Regions from separate parts of the Homo sapiens genome. Here region 1 is linked to region 2. Evidence: fine-mapped expression QTL. A gene starts in region 2. The other region holds a variant in brackets. All regions are shown on one strand. Distances are between the middles of the regions.

Region 1 (8,315 bases), 22 kb before region 2:
CCTGACTTCCTGAACCGCTGCCGCATGCATGCCATCTCCGGCTGGCAGGCCTTCTTTCCCATGCATTTCCAAGCCTTCCACCCAGCTGTGGCCCCACCACAAGGGCCTGGGCCCCCAGAGCTGGGCCGTGACACTGGCCGCTTTGATCGCCAGGCAGCCAGCGAGGCCTGCTTCTACAACTCCGACTATGTGGCAGCCCGTGGGCGCCTGGCGGCAGCCTCAGAACAAGAAGAGGAGCTGCTGGAGAGCCTGGATGTGTACGAGCTGTTCCTCCACTTCTCCAGTCTGCATGTGCTGCGGGCGGTGGAGCCGGCGCTGCTGCAGCGCTACCGGGCCCAGACGTGCAGCGCGAGGCTCAGTGAGGACCTGTACCACCGCTGCCTCCAGAGCGTGCTTGAGGGCCTCGGCTCCCGAACCCAGCTGGCCATGCTACTCTTTGAACAGGAGCAGGGCAACAGCACCTGACCCCACCCTGTCCCCGTGGGCCGTGGCATGGCCACACCCCACCCCACTTCTCCCCCAAAACCAGAGCCACCTGCCAGCCTCGCTGGGCAGGGCTGGCCGTAGCCAGACCCCAAGCTGGCCCACTGGTCCCCTCTCTGGCTCTGTGGGTCCCTGGGCTCTGGACAAGCACTGGGGGACGTGCCCCCAGAGCCACCCACTTCTCATCCCAAACCCAGTTTCCCTGCCCCCTGACGCTGCTGATTCGGGCTGTGGCCTCCACGTATTTATGCAGTACAGTCTGCCTGACGCCAGCCCTGCCTCTGGGCCCTGGGGGCTGGGCTGTAGAAGAGTTGTTGGGGAAGGAGGGAGCTGAGGAGGGGGCATCTCCCAACTTCTCCCTTTTGGACCCTGCCGAAGCTCCCTGCCTTTAATAAACTGGCCAAGTGTGGACTTGTGATTCAGAGGTTTTGAAAAGGTAGGCAGGCGTGGGGGAGGGAGGACTGGCTGAGCACCACAGGCTCCCCTGCCCCTGCTGGGGCCTGCCTTTCCTTTCACCCGGGACCAAGTCATGCATGTGCCCAGCCTCACCCCGGCCCCCAGTGCGTGCTTGGTCACACATACACACAGAGAATTCTTTATGCCTCTTTATTCCCAATCTCGTCAGCACTTTATAAAATCAGACTGGAGGGAGAGAGGACTGAGAAGGCTCCCTTCCCACCCTCCAAGCTCAGCCGAAGTCTGGAAGGTCTCCTGCCCCCTCCCTATAGAAGGGACTCTAGGGGTGGGGCTGGTGCAGGGGGAACTGGGAGCTGGGCCAGGCCTGCTGGGCCATCCTCTCCCCCTGCCAAGAGGGGAGCTGGGCCTGGAGAGGGGCAGGAAGTAGGACCAGCCCAGCACTCCTGAGTCCTGGGGCTCTCCCTATCCTGCTGACATTGGGGCTGGGACCCTGGCTGTCCCTAAATCACCCACCCCTGTAGCCCTACCCACCTTCTACATCTGTATCCCCTCCCCCCACCCGGCTTTCCCTAAATATTTACAAATGTACAGAGGGCTCCCCCTCCCCGGCTGGGATGGGCTCTATCCTCCCCCTCCCTCTCCTTCCTTCCCTTCCTCTCCGTGAGGGCCCATGGCCTGGTCTCCAGCCCTCCCGGGGCACCAGCCTGGGGATAAGGGGTGTGGACAAGAAGGACCTTTGTGCAAAGCAGCTGACATCAGGGCAGGGGAGGATGAGAGCAGGAACTGAGTCCTGGCCCTCCCAGTGAGCACCGCCCCCAGGCCTCTCCCAGGAGCAGGAGAATGTGCTGGGGATCCCAGGAGGGGTCCCAGACTCCTGGGTCCTTTCAGTCACAGCACCGTCCTAGCAAGCAAAATCTTCAAAGAGACCTCCTGGGGGACCGTGGGGGTGGTGGTGATTGGGGAGCAGACTGCTGACCCCCCCACCCTCCACTCGGCCCCGGCTCGGGCAGGGACTCTGCAGGAGAAAGAAAAGAGAGAGTGGGACCGGGAGAGCTCAAGTGGTGCCCCCAGGGCTCACACCGCCAGCCTTTCCTTGTCACCTCGGGCAGAGGCTCCAGGGCCCCCTCCACAGGCTGGTTCAGAAACAATGGATGTATTCAGTCCTGGGGAGGTGTGGCTGCATGCTGCAGGCATTTAGAGCTTGTCCTCACCTGTTCCTTCAGCTCCTGAAGCCCCAAAGTGGAGATGCCCCCAGTGGAGGTCCGCAGGGGGGTCTTGGGACGCCTCCATACCCGCTTCAGTCGATCCCAGGACACCTTGGGGTTCAGGGTCGGGGACAGCAGTGGGCTCAGGAAATTTGGTTGAGGAGAAGCGTGAGCCTTACCATGCCCAGCTGCCCACAGGACTTACTGCCACAGCAAACTCCCAGTAGGACACCCTCCTCCTCCTCACCCATCCCCTTCTCCTGACTCTGAGCCCTCAGGCCTGCCAGCCAGTCAGGGGACCCTGGCAGAGAACCCTGAACCTGACTTTCCAGCCAGGCCAGCTCCACCAGGCACCCCGCACTGCCCCCTTCTGCTTTGCCCACGGCCCCCACTCCCACCCTGCCTTCTCCAGGGCCCTTGCCTCATAGATGTAGTCGAGGATCTCCAGCAACGTGAGGATGCTGGCCCCAATGAACAGGCCCATCTGTCCCCCGAGGTCTCCTGGGAAGCAGGAGAGCAGTGTCAGAGGGAGCGGCCGGGCCGATCCACCCCCACACAAGCTGGGGGCAGGGACACCAGTCTCACCCAGCAGGGCTGACAGGCCATAGGCTGCTCGCTGCTCCATGGCTTCAGAGGTCAGGGCCTCAAAGAAGACATCTAGGACCAGGAAGTTCTCCCTGTGGAGACAGGAAGCAGGGTATCCGTGTGGGCCTCTCTTCCTGAGAAGGCTGGCAGGGGCATCCTGGATCCAGCAGATCCTGATCAGAGATCACTACATGGGGAAGTCAGTGACTACCCCCCGGACTCCCCAAGGCTGTGAGGGGAGGCAGTCCCGGATGTGTGTTAGCTTCATCTTTTGAGGGGTAGCAAAGGGCCTGGGAGAGCAAAACACAACTCCTGGACCTGAAGGAAACACTCCTCCCTCCTCTAAAGCAGCCAGTGGTGTTGCCTTTGCCTCCTCCTTACGCCTCTGCGGACCCTTCAGTGACCCCTGTTGCCCGTCAGTCCACTCCACAATGCCCCTTCTCGGTGTCCTGGGCAGCCGGTGGCCTGTCCCCGGCACCTTCCTCCCCAGCCGCCGTCTTTTCTGCTTCCTCCACACAGCTGCCTATGGCTCAGGCTCCCCGCCACACCACCCCACCGCCCCACGTCCTGTCACTGGACGCCTCCCCATTGCCTCCTCTCTCAGACCCCAAACCCAGGGCCCTCAGAGGCCGGCTCACGCCTCCCCAGCTTCACTCCCCGACTGGGGCCTGAGAATCAGTCCTACATGATCAAACGTGGGCTCATTGACAAATTGTGGCATGAGTTTTGTGTCATAATCATCTGTCCCCAC[A/G]GAACCCAGCACTGAGCCTGGCACCCAGACCACGCTCCACAAGTGTAGACTGGCTGGAGGGGACCAGACCCAAGCCTCAGGGCGGTCCCTCCTGCCTCCCCCTGCAGGGTACTGTGTTCCTCTCCTGTCTCATCCTGTCCCTCTCCCTCCGTGCAGGGAAGAAAGATGCATAAGCAAAGCACTCTGAAATGTGGCATATGTGTAATGACAGAGATCTGTACGGGTGCTGGGAACTCAGATGAAAGGTGTTTGGACCTGGAAGCACTTCCCTGGAGGTGGAGACACTGAACGTGACTTGAGCAATGAGTGGGGCTACTTAGAAGAGAAGGGCTGTGGCCAGGCAAGGTGGCTCACACCTGTAATCCCAGCACTTTGGGAGACCAAGGACGGCAGATCACTTGAGGTCAGGAGTTTAAGACCAGCCTGGCCAACATGGTGAAACCCCATCTCTACTAAAAAGACAAAAATTAGCTGGGTATGGCTGTGGGTGCCTATAATCCCAGCTATTTGGGAGGCTGAGGGAGAAGAATCGCTTGAACCTGGGAGGTCGAGGTTGCAGTGAGCCAAGATTGTGCCACTGCACTCCAGCCTGGGCGACAGAGCAAGACTCTGTCTCAAAAAAAAAAAAAAAAAAGAAGGAGAAGAATAGAGCTATGAAGGGCATTCCCGGTAGAAGACTCATCATAGAGATGCGGCCCACTCCCTGCCTCCACCATGCCCAGCGCCTGTTGAGGGCAGCCTCCACCACACACACACACGCACACAGACCCACACAGACATAGACACATTCTCTCACACACATACCCATTCACAGATACATACACTCATAAGTGTGCATGCACACACACATCACACACTCACACACCCACAAGACACACATACATGCCCCCCACACAGACACACACACACATGCATGTACACACCCACATACACCCCACACACATACACACCCACACCCACATACACACAAACACATACACACATACACTCACACACACGTACACACAGAGTCACACAGCCACCCCCCACACACACGTACACACAGAGTCACACAGCCACCCCCCACACACACACACACATACCGTATGTAGGTCTCGTTGCGGTTGTACTTCCTCGCCAGGTACCGGGCTGAGCCCCTGTTGGGGATCCTGACCATGGAGATCTCTTTCCCATAGCGTGTCAGGTTGCAGGGGGTGGGGCAGAAGCACGGGCCCTCAGGGCCCCCACCCAGGGAGTCTGCAACACAGAGGTAGCAGCTACAGTGGGAGTTGGAGAAGGGTGGTCCAGTGGCCCACCAGCTGCAGAGAGGAGGCCCAGGGGCCGTCCTGAGGCAGGCACACCCACACTGAGGGCCTTTACTGGCCAGCCCCAGTGCTTCCTAGAGGGGACTGGCTGCAGGTCCCCGCCTGAACCAGCTTCAGACTGCTCCAGAGAGCAGATATAAGCAGAACCCCCCAGCACCCTCCCAACCCCCTGGGACTGGGGGGGGGTCCTCGTGGCCCAGAGGGAGAACACAGCCCATCCACCAGAGCTAATCAACTATGTGAGGCCTCAGACACACAAGGAGGTGTGGAGAGGATGCTGGGATGCATGCATGGATGGATGGATGGATGGATGGATGGATGGATGGATGGATGGATGGCAGATGGCCAGATCGACGGATGGGCGAACAGAAGAACAAATAGACCGACAAGCTTCCCAGGATCAATGTGCTGGGCTTTCTCTGCCTGCCCCTTCAGATCCACTCTCCACTCTTCAACCTTGCTCTGCACCCTATGAGGCTGATCTCCCCCAAATGCATCAACTAAACTCCCTTGTCCTCTGGCTTTGGGTTCAGTTTGGCCAACAGGAGGCCCCAGCAGAAACAGAAGGTGAGAGGGAAGAGATGCCAGGGTATTTCTCCCGCCTGGCTTTCTCACTGCCAGGCCGTAGGTGGCAGAGGCTGTGCTCCTCCAGCCATGCTGCTGTCAGTCAGCCCTCTCGGACAGCCACAGGTCTCTCTCTCCTCCTGCAGGCCTGGTGGGAATGAAGGCTCCCCATGTTGCTAGCTCTGTGGTCTACCGCTGTGCCTTGCAGGCACCTTACTCCTGATCACATATCTGTTCCTTCACTAAACATCTCCAATCACCCCTGTGACAGATGCAGGTGGTGTGGGGGACAGAGAAGGGCTGGATGTGTGTGGCTGCCCAGTGTCTCAAACCCAGCCCCAAGGCCCCAGGTGTCTGGATTACTGCAGCCAGCTTCGCCAGTCCCTGGCTTTGAGTCTCCTCCCCTCCTATCTCATTGGACTCACCTGGCATTCCTGCCTTGCCACAGGCCTTTGTTGGCTTCCTAGAGCCTCCCTCCTCTTTTTTTTTTTTTTTTTTTTTTTTTTTGAGACAGGGTAACTCTGTAGCTCAGACTAGAGTGCAATGGTGTGATCCCAGCTCACCGCAGCCTCAACCTCCCAGGCTCAAGCCTATCCTCTTGCCTCAGCCTCCCGAATAGGTGGGACTATAGATGTGCACCACCACACCCAGTTCACTTTTTTATTTTTTGCAGAGACAGGGTCTCACCATGTTGCCCAGGCTGGTCTTGAACTACTGGGCTCAAGTGATCCACAGACCCTGGCCTCCCAAAGTGCTGGGTCTACACTTGTGAGCCACCGTGCCTGGCCTCCCTCCTCTACTCTTTCTACTCCCTCCCCTGTTCTCTGCCCTGCAGCCACACAGACCTTTCAGTGCCCCGGACACAGCATGCTCTTTCTGGCCACAGGTCTTCAGTGTATGTCCCCCTTTGCACCTGACTCTTATACACCCATCAAGCCTCAGCTAATGTGTCCCTTCCTCTAGGAATCCTCCCTACCTTCCCAGGCTAGGGCTGCACACCCCTCCTTGGGGCCTTGCAGCACACCCGAGGCTCCCCTCTCCAGGAGTTGACGGGCTGTGTGGGAATGGCTGTCCACAGCCCTGCCGGGGTGTAAGCTCTCCAAGGGCAGGGCTGTCGCCCCCACTCTCACCTCCAGTACCCAGCACAGGCTGTAAAGGTCTGGAGAATGCGCGAATCGATGAATGGATGGATAGATGGATGAACTGCAGATCAGGCAAGATCTGTGGACAGATGGGGTTTGCCTTACCCACACCGATAGCCAGCAATGCATTTTTCCTGAGACCAAGAGAGAAGTCATTTCACTTTCTCAAAGTGGGTGAGCTCATTGGCTGAACCAAGATGAGAAGCCCAGACCTTCACTCCCAGTCCTGGCTTCTCTGCAACCCCCCACCCTGCTGCCTCCACTTACCCAAGTGTCTGTACCTGCAGAGGTCCGCAGACCTCTCCCCAACCCCACTGAAGTATGGGCTAAGGCTCAACCCCCAGGAAGAACCCTCCAGGAAGAGATTGGGAGGGGAGGATCCAAGACAGTGAGGAGAAGAGTGGACAGAGACATGAAGAGGCTGATGGAGAGGTAGGAAAGGGTAGGCAGCACGGACCCAGTGTGTGGTCTGCACACTCGATGTAGATATTTGGTGGGCAGATGGTCTCATTGCCTGAAAGGAGAGAAGATTATTCCTGGAATCTACGATCACTTCCCCTGTCCCCCACACGCCCAAATGTAAGCACATACATGCATGCACACACATATGCACACATTTGCATAAATGTGCTTGAACACCACACACACAACCCCCACAAATACGCAACCACGGATATAAATGAGCATGCACGTACACAAATACATATTAACATGCACACAGGCATCTGCATGCCGGCATTCCCACATGCATATGTGAAACCATGTTTAAAAATCCCAAACACTCACACTCACACGGGTACAGACACATACACATGTTGTATACATGCACCTGCCTGTGCACATGAGCAGTGCCTTGCCCCGGGAGGCTCTGGAGCCTAGCAGGGTGGCATGGAGGGCTGGCTGGGGGTGGGGTGCCCACCTGGCATGTGCACCATCCGGCAGTGGCAGCGCTGAAGCACGGCCTCCTTTTCACAGCGCAGCCGGCAGGCAGACACACTGTAGGCCGAGTAGCCCTGAAGCTCAGGCTCCCTGAGCTCACTCTCTGCGCGGCAGTTGCCCCAGGGCTGGGGCAGGTAGGTCAGCTGCAGAGGTGGGGCATGATGAGGTCATGCTCAGGAATCCCACCCAGTCCTCCAGTGCCCACAGCCCCAGCAAAGTCAACACAGCTGGCAGGCTCTGAGCTTCTAGAGGGCAGGTTTGCTCCACATCCCCTCTGAGCCCAAAGGCGAGCCCTGTGCCCAATCCAGGGCCTAGCAGGAGATGCTCACCCGCTGTTCCTGGCAGGACACAAAGGTCTGGAAGCCTGGGGACACCCCGAACCCCAGCTGGTGGATGTAGGGCGGCTCCTCCTGGCTGTGGATCTGCACCCGAATACCTGCCTCAAACGACGTCTCATCTGCACAGCAGAGATGGGGACCTTTGGAAACCCATCCCAGGCAGAGGGCCCAGGCCCCAGTCCCCAAGGTGGCCCTTGTCCCTTTCCGGCCTGCGTACTTGTCTCCCTCCAGATGGGCAGGTACTCCTCCTGCTGGATGTCCAGCATGATCTCCAGGCCACTGCCCATGCCCCCTGCCCGGCTGGGCAGCGAGCTCCGCGGGTCCGCGTTGAAGGTGTAACACTTCCCATAGCGAGTATAGACCTGGGAGGTGGGGTGAGAGAGCAGGAGGGGAGATGAAAGGAGTGGCCAAGGCAACTCCGAAGTTCCCTGCTCCCTGCTGAGGGCCACCAGATCTGCTTGGACACTCCAGTCCCGTATCCTAGCAAGCAATGTACAGCCCAGCCTCTCCAATCAGCGCCAACTTTTCTACTGATGGCCTCCCTTAGATGATTAGAAAGCATCTCCAACCCAACAGCACATCAACAC
Region 2 (8,315 bases):
TGACATTTATTAACTTGGATTCCAGAGGAAAGGTCACAGCAGAGTGGGGAGTGGGAAGGAGGAAACAGGGAAAGCAACAGAAAACACATAACAGCCCCTTGGTGAAGCCTGTCCCTGTCTCTGACCATCTCACCACCCATACCCCGGCAGGCTCCCCACCAACCAGCTCACATACCCATCTCCCCACCATAGACCCCAAATCCCCATCATTGACTCCAGGTCCTCACCACAGAGCTGATTATGGACCTCACGTCCTTTTTGGAGACCCCATATCTTCATCTCCATGCCCATTCTCCAGTCTTTCCCCTGTAATACACCCCATCTTCCCCACTACCATGGATCATGGGCCCCCAGCCCAATCTGTAATTCCAGACCCTGGTGAATCTGCAGCAGACTCAGCCCTTGAATGCCAGACCCAAGACAGAGTTACACTCAGCAGACGGGGGATGCAGTATGTGCAGAAGAGTAGGAGGCTGGGCTGGAGACAGGGGAAATGGAAATCCCAAAGGGGAATTCCTGTCCCCCAATGCTAGCTATGCCCTCTACCCCCACTGTCCTGCACCAGGGCCAGAACCTCAGCCCACGGACTTCTACCATCCTCCTTTCTCCAGCCCCAGGGTACCAGAGGGCCTGTGGGAAATCCACCCACACTCCTCCAGGCCATCCCCAGGATTCCGGGGACTCACCAGCCTTGATCAGAGGATCCCCGTTCCTGTATCCTCCAGGCACCGCCTCCTAGCCTGGAGACCAAGCAGAACCCTCTGCCTCCCTCCCCTTACTTCCTCACCCCCTCCAGCTCTTCCTCTCCTTTCCTCTCACTGAGGTCTCATCACCCTTCCCCTTTCCTGCCCACCCCCAACTCCCGCTCGGGGACACAAAGATCCCATTGATTTCTGTCCCAACAGCACCTGCTAAGACTGAGCTCTGCCCAGCTCCCAATACGGAGTGGTGAGGATTGAGGACAGCAGAGCCCTATGGATCCCAAAGGCCACACTCACCCTCCATATCCCACCTCCTCCTCGGGGACTCTACCAACCCTTGCTTTGGGGAGCAGTGCTTTTCCCTAGGAAAGGGGGTGTACAGCCGGACAACAGGCCAATGCCCCCGACTCTTCTCCCTGCACAATGCTCCTGCTCCTGTCCCTCTATTTCTACCTAACTCCCCTGCCCAATGGCGGGAGGCCCCAGACACTGCAGGCATGGTGGGGGCCAGGAACCTCGTTGGCTGGAGCATGTTTCCTGGTGATCCTGAGGCAGCGGGTGAGTGAGAACCTGGCGGGGGTCCCTATCACTGGGGCTGGCTGCTGGAGGCTGGGCTGGAGTGGGCACCATGTTGACGCCAAACATTTGCATATGCACTGGGCAGTGGCAACGAGGATGAAACATACACGCATGCACACACAATGCTGGGAGCAAACTGTGGACTAGGGACAAGCATCTCGAGCGCCATGAATACTAGATACCCTGTGACTATGGGTGAATGGAGCCCTGACAGACAGGCAGTGTACAAGACACGCCCACCCCCTCACATACCTGACTGTGGGAGGCGTGCATGGCAGAGCAGCCCAAGCTCACACCCCTCTCCCGGAGAGGGTGCTTGTGTTTGTGCTCACACGTAGGTGACAGATGGCGCCAGCAGTCTCCAAATGGGGAGCAGCGGTTGGGATAGATGGGGGTGGGGGTGTCATGAGAAGGGATGGCATCCACAGTGGGACCCTGTCCTTGGCAGCTAAGCGAGAGCTGGGAGCTAGACATGGAGATGAGTAGCTCTCTGGGTGTGGGTGTGCAGGTGTGCATGTGAGTGTAGTGACAGGGACAGTGAGTGAGAGAGGGAGTGTGCAGGAAACTGTGTCCCCCAGCAGTGCGTGTGCGTGTGTGCGTGTGCATGTGTGCATGCACCCGTGCTGGGGCAGCAGTGAGGGTGAGTTATGCACATAAGAGTGAACCAGTGATTCCCAGTGTAAGAGCCAGAGCTGGGCATGGGAGCCGCTAGAACAGGAGACAGAGGGGGACTGGACCCCAGGAGGGCTGGAGGGCAGAATGAAAGAGGGATGTGTGAGGGAGTCTGTGAGGCAGGCATGTGAGAGACACACAGAGATCCAGAAGAGACACTGGCACCCAGTGTCCTGAAGACCGGGTCTCTCCAGCCTGCCCACCAGGCCAGCTCCCCAGGAGGCCACCCGGGGTCCTTCCCTAGATGGAGCCCCCCAAACCTCCCCTCCCTATCTCCTTCGTTTGGTGGGAAGAATCCAGTAGCCTCAGAAGAAAAAGGGAGCAAGAGAAAAGTGAGAGTCAGTTGGTCTGGCCTTGGGATGGTGCGTGCGTTCCCTGCAAGCCAGCCAGCTCCAGGACACCTGGGCCCATGCCTAGGAACCCCCACCCCAACTCCCAGACCTGGGCACTGCAGCAGCAGCAAAACCAAGAAGAGGAGCAGCAGGCGCCCCAGGGTAAGCCCCTATGAGCGGCCACTGCTCCATGGCTGGGAAGCCAGAGGGAGACGCCAGGCTTGGGGAAACACGAGGCCAGCCTCTGGTGGTGGAATGAAGGGAAGCCCTGTTGAGGATGCCCCTGTACACCACTGCCACCACTCCTCCCCACTCCCCAGCCTCCGGCCATCCAAGGCCAGGCAGCCCAGCTGGCAGAACTCACCACAGAGAAGTTGCTGGCGGAGCAGTGATGCCCACTGAAGTTGCAGCTCTTAAGCATGTCGGCGAGCTGGTGGCCAGTGCGGTTGAGGATGTCTACCATGTCAGGCTCTGGGTAGCGCAGGCCAGCCGCACGGTGCCCATCCCGGTCTTTGGGGGGCAGCCCTGTCAGATTGGCCAGGTGGAAGATGTCGGCATCGCTGAGTGCCGAATGCCGGAAGCGGTTGATATTGCAGAGGGTGACAGCCGGGAAGCCCGCCACTGGGGCTGGGGCAGCGGGGTCCATTGCCACCAGGTGAGGCCGGGTCAGGTAGCCCCGGGCCAGGCCAGCCGCCTGGTACAGGAAGGCAGCCAGCGAGGTGAGTAGGGCCAGTGCCCACAGGGTTCTGCGCAGTCCGTGGGGGCCTGGGCCACAGGCCCGGCCCAGTCCATGCAGGGTGCTGGTGCTGGCAAAGGTGGCCAGGTCTCGGGGGGCTGCTCCAGGGGCAACAGCCCCGAGGAGGCTCTGCTCATCCCCTGCCTCCTTCTCCTTGGGTTTCGCATCCTCCTCAGCAAATTTGATTTTGCACACAATCTCGATCGGCATCTGTCCCCGGCTGCTGGGACTGGCCAGAGCCTCCCTGCCCTGTCCCTCCCTAGCCAGCAGCCCTGGTGCCCTCCCGAGTGGCAGTGGTGGCAGCGGCTGCTCTTCTAAACTCAGGGCAAGCGGGAAGAGGACAGGGACAGGGTGGGGGCCCGAGGTGGGGGAGTCACTCCCACTCCCAGCAGCTCCGCAGCCCTGGTGCTGCCTCTGCCGCTGCTGCCTCTGCTGCCGCTTGTCTCTCTCCTCGATCGTCTCCTTGTGGCTTCCCTTATCAGCACCAGCACAGCTGTCAGCCCCTGCGTGTGTCCCTGCGAGCGAGCGAGTGAGCGAGGGAGCGAGCGCTGCTCCGCCACGCCGCGCAGCCCCAGCCGCTCCGCTCAGCATGTGCTCCGGAGCCCTCCCCACGCTTAATAATTCAGGACATGTCAACAGCGTTTCACCGGCAGCACGGGCGTCAGGAGCCAGGCCAGGGGAGGGGGCAGTCCCCAGCCCAGGACAGAGATCCCAAGACTGGGGCTATCCCCCAAACTCCTGCTGCACCCTAGCCGCTCACTGGGTCCCCAGATCTCCCCACTTCCTGGCCACCCAGGGAAGGGTGCCGTGCCCAGGGTCCTCAGCTCATTCTTTGCCACTTTCCTGGCCCACACCCCATGAAGGGTCAGCCAACTCTATCCCCCCACCTCCTGGCCTCTGAGACTCCTGACTCCAGCACCCAGCCACCACCTGATCCCACTACCCGACTCACAGCAGCTTCCAGAAACTCCTTGAGAGAGCCACTTGTTTGAATGACGGAGGGAGGGGGGCAGAGGAGGGCAGGCTAGACAGACCAGGGGACAACTGTGACTTCAAGATTCTCAGCTTCCCTGGAGCTTTGCTCCAGACTTCAACACCCACCATGCCCCTGCCCCCTCTGGGAGGCTGGCTGCCCTCACCCTCATTTTGCCCCCAACCCCAATCTCAGTCATTCATATGTCTGGGACAGACAGCACCCTGGCCAGCTTGCATATCTGTGGCCACTTTGCTTCCCCAAATGTTCCCCAAATCCCTTGCCACAACCAGGCTTCGGGGGAGGGCTGTTGGGTAAGCAAGCCAGGGAGCAAAGGGGAGGTGTGCTTCCGGGGTGCTCTATATGTAGGGGGACAGGGCATGCAATGGAGGGAGAGGAAGAGCCCCAGTGGGGGCGTGGAAGGGAGCAGGAAGATGTGCTGGGCGTCAATGGGAGCGAATGCTCTCCTAAAGAAAGGGGTTTGAGGGGTGCCTGGCAGAGTGGGGCAGGAGAGCCCTAAGGGGTCTGCTGTGTTCTCGTGGAGGGGAACAGGCATGTGGGCCATCATCATAGGTGGGGGTGGGAGCCTCAGTTGACTGGCCAGGAGGGGATGCATCCATGCCCCCAGGGTGGGGGTGGCAAGAATCAGTGCTTGTGCTCTGGGGCCCCATCCGACAGCATGTGCCCTCACGGGGGAGGAAGCCCTTGTCCCCGGGAGGAAAGGGGGGCTGATTAATCGGGGCGCTAATGAGCAGCAGGGAGAGGAAGCGTGGACGGGCGGGGGGAGGTGGCTCCATCGATCCAAGCCGCAGAACCAGCAGCTGAGAAAAAAAGTGAGAAAGGAATCGATCTGAGGGAAACGGCAGCTGCTGGGGATTAGAGCCCGAGGTCCACCCGCTGCCCAACGGCCACCCCGCCCCCTGCGTCAGGCCTGGCCCCGCAGCCTCTGCCTGGCCCCAGGGGAGGGGCCTAGGGATGGCTCCCTTAGCAGCTGGAAGCCACTTTGCCCACCCTGGCTGCAAGGCCAGGTCAGGCCCCATCAGGGTCACCCCAGCATGGAGCCTGCCCACACACCCAGCCCTGACCATGCGTGGTGCCCTGCTTAGGTTGTCCCTAGCCTTTAGGCAAAGTGGCTTCCCCAGGGACCCCACAGCTGGGCTTCCCCACAAGCCTCCAATGAGTCTGGGTCAGCTGGTTCCCCAAGCTGGGAAGATAAGACCCCTGGGGCAGGGTGATGCATCTGGCTGGGACATAGTGTCCCAGAAGGGAAAGTGGGATTGGCATTGGACAAAGCCGCTGAGTTAGCACTGAAAGTGGCCAAGTGACCACAGACAGCCCCCTCTCTCTGTCCCATGCCCAGGCAGCCGCCTCCTATGCTCTCCCCTCCCTGGTAGACTTCCAAACCTTTCCAGAACTCCCCCCACTGTTCCTCCCCATCCTTCTCTCTCTTCTCCTTTCTCCTAATATTGATTTTTCTTTACTGTTTTTTTTAAAAGGTGATTTAATTGCTTTTTAAGGTTACTTTAGTCTGGGGCTTTGCCAAGAAAGCGGGAAACTGCCCCCCAAACTCTCCGCAGCACTCGTTGCTACCCTGGAGTGCATACATATCTCTAAATTCACCCACCATCTATTGAGATCTTGGGGTCACACTTCCCCGACAACATACTGGCCTCCATCATGAGACAAATCACATCCTCTTTCCTCCTGAGGGTAGGCAGGATGCCTTCAACCTCTATAAGGAAAGAAATCGGGTGGTAACTGGGTATAAGGGGCATGCGGGGGGTGCTGTGAGGGGAGCTCCAGGCTGCCAGGAAGTGGAGCAGCAATTAGCTGCATGCACACCCCCACCACTGCCCCACAGCCAGCTGTCTCCAATTGTCCCCAAGCCCCCAGCCTCCAGTCTCCCAGATCTCCAGGAATCTGGTGATGTTCTGAGGGAGTGCCCCCATACTTCCAGCTCATCTCTTGACCTTTCCCTCCGCTTCTCACCAGGCCCTCTGGCCCCCTCCCTGTCTCTCTATACCCCCTTTGCCTCTGGCCCCGTCCCCTCTCTCCTCCCTCTCCCCGCTTCCCTGCCTGCCTCCCTCTCTGCCCGGCTGCAGTTGGGTGATAATCTCCCTCATTTAGCCTCCCGGCTGCTTCCCCGGCTCATTGCCCAGCTGGTCCCTGGGGCCCGGCCCAGCTTCTTCCCCACCCCCACCCCGGCCCTGCGCCCAAGCTCCCCCACCCCTCCCTGCTTCCCCCACCCACTCCCGGGGGACCAGCTGCCCCTTGCAGTGAGGCATCAGGGACAAGTGTGGCTGGCCAGGCCCTGAGCTGGGTGTGAGCAAAGGGGGCAGGGCTGTTAGGGACCCTGGACTGGGAGTGCCGGGGAGCTGGGTGTTGCGGGGTCAGAATGTGAAGCCTCATCCCAGGTTCCTTTGCTCTCTGGTTGTCCCCATTCCTCAGATTTATTCCCAGTCCAATTCACCTGCCTCCGCCCCCCAGGGGATGAGCTTCCTGACAGTGAGAATGAGTGGTAGATGGACTGGGACGAGGTTTGGTAACAGGGCAGAATGTGGGGGGGGGGCAGTGCATGCAGTCGGGGGGAGAGACAGGGAGAGCAGTGGGTTTCTGGCTCAAGGTTCCTGGGAGGAGGCATGGAGATTTTGTTTGGGCAAAGTGCCCCAAAGGCAGACCCAGAGACCTCCCAGGATCCAACCTGGGGGGTTCCAAGGGTGCTTTCTCAAAGCACAGGAACCCCCAAGCTGATGCCCAGATTCCTTGCCTGGCTGGCCCCATTCAAAAATGCTGTGACCCCCTGAACTCCTAGACAGCATTCTCCAAAAGATGCCCAGCCTCCCTCCCCCTGCACCCAGAGGACACCCTCCCCAGCCCAGACACCTGGCCCTGGTGCGGACCAAGTGATGAGCCAGTGTGGGACAGATGTGGGCGGTAAGGGACAAGGATGGGGGGGCTGGGGCTGGGCTGGTCCAGGCCTGGCTGGTGAGCACACAGCGGTGACAAACGGGCTGTGCAGGGGCCGAGGGGCGGGGGGCGGACGGCGGCTGATTTATCTGGGTTATTTATGCCGCGGACGAGGCAGGAGAAGCGGTTAATGAGAGTCCCAGAGAAGGGGGGTGGGGAGTCCCGAACGTGATCTGAGGCGACTGAAGAGGGTTAGCGTCCCACCGCCAGGCCCTGCCCCCACTGTCCGCCAGTACTCCTTGCACCCCCACCCCATCTTTCTAGGGCCAACCCAGCCCAGCACCTTCTCCCGAGTTTCATACCAACACTTCCCATCTCCTTTCGGGTACTCCCAAGCCAAGGCAACGGGTCCCTGGGACTATAAGGACACCAGGTCCAAGATGGGATGGGGGCATCAGGAGGAAGTGGGGAAGACACCAGGAAAGGGAGGGCAGGAAGATGAAAAATCCTGGCTGGCCAGAAACTAACAAAGTCTGTGGGGCCTGCGGGGGAGGGCTGGGATGGACGCAGCCATCGTGGGAGTGGGTGTGCAGCCGACAACCTCGGAGCTGAGGCTGCAGAGGGCAAAGGGCATGGGGTACAGAGGCGGTGTCAGCCAGTAGCCACAGCGGGGGCCTGAGTGGCAGAGACAGGCTGGCCGGGAGGGGGTGCTGGTCAGAGAGCGGAGAGAGCTGAGGAAGGAGGGGGAGAGGGCTTTGCAGCAGCGAAAGCTGCTGGGAGCAGATAAGGCGGCACAGCAGCAGGAGGGATTAGAGCTCCGAGGGGCATGTGGGGAGCGGTGTGGGAATTGGGGGGTGGGGCAGGGAGGAGAAGGTTGAGGGCAAGACACTAGGGCCAAGGAGATAAGTGGGAAAAGTGAGGGCTGTGAAGACGGCAGGGTTTCATCAGGGGCCAAGAGGTGGTCATCGACGGGGAGAGGAGAGAAGGAATTCCTGATCCTTCTCTCCTCTGTCCTAGGAGAGGGGGACTTTTCTGCCATTGACAGAGCCCCCGCCCCCCACACCCCATGCATGTCAGGGGCAGCAGAGGGACGCACTACCGAGGATCGAGAACGGGCGGATTTGGGGGTGGGGGCAGTGGCAGGGGCCAACCCTAGCAGCTGAGCTGAAGGCTAGACTGAGAACACACAGCACCCCCTTGAGGTGGCCAGTGGAGCACAAGGGTGCCGCAGCGATCAGCGCTGGCACCGAGACCTTGTAGTGCCCAGGCTGTGGCAAAGATCAATTTCAGAGGGGGCTTCTTCATGGGGAGGGGTGTGGGCTTGGAAGGAGGGCAGATGGCTTCCCAGAGATCACCCCTTGAACTCAGACACCCCTCACCACCCCCTGCCCTCCTGCTCTCTGAGCCTCCCAGGA

Direction of the effects. Positions count from the first base shown, and alleles are read on the strand shown. Sizes are in standard deviations (SD) of each study's normalised expression.
As copies of G replace A in region 1, the expression in testis of the gene that starts at base 3,473 in region 2 goes up (large effect, 0.87 SD a copy in GTEx).

What was found. PIP is the estimated chance that this variant, and not a neighbour inherited with it, causes the effect.
Region 1: its variant is fine-mapped to the expression of ASIC4 in testis (GTEx, PIP 0.93).

What each region holds. Positions count from the first base shown.
Region 1 is chr2:219,531,533-219,539,847 of GRCh38, reverse strand. It overlaps ASIC4 (acid sensing ion channel subunit family member 4), which reads right to left. Exons shown (of 10, transcript NM_018674.6): 2 at 7,946-8,090; 3 at 7,720-7,847; 4 at 7,371-7,533; 5 at 6,909-6,965; 6 at 4,524-4,677; 7 at 2,691-2,782; 8 at 2,527-2,606; 9 at 2,112-2,216; 10 at 1,076-1,915. The coding sequence ends at 1,802. CHPF (chondroitin polymerizing factor) reads left to right here. Exons shown (of 4, transcript NM_024536.6): 4 at 1-894. The coding sequence ends at 465. Among named protein-coding and RNA genes, the nearest start is that of CHPF, 8.1 kb to the left of the region's middle. RefSeq lists enhancers at 1,074-1,629, 1,630-2,184, 7,008-7,605. The variant A/G (reference allele first, on the strand shown) is at 3,442.
Region 2 is chr2:219,509,640-219,517,954 of GRCh38, reverse strand. It overlaps ASIC4 (acid sensing ion channel subunit family member 4), which reads right to left and starts at 3,473. Exons shown (of 10, transcript NM_018674.6): 1 at 2,649-3,473. The coding sequence starts at 3,230. ASIC4-AS1 (ASIC4 antisense RNA 1) reads left to right here and starts at 869. Exons shown (of 2, transcript XR_923921.2): 1 at 869-1,259. RefSeq lists silencers at 3,375-3,550, 5,954-6,248, enhancers at 4,835-5,476, 7,607-7,751, 7,946-7,995 and a cis regulatory region at 7,671-7,688.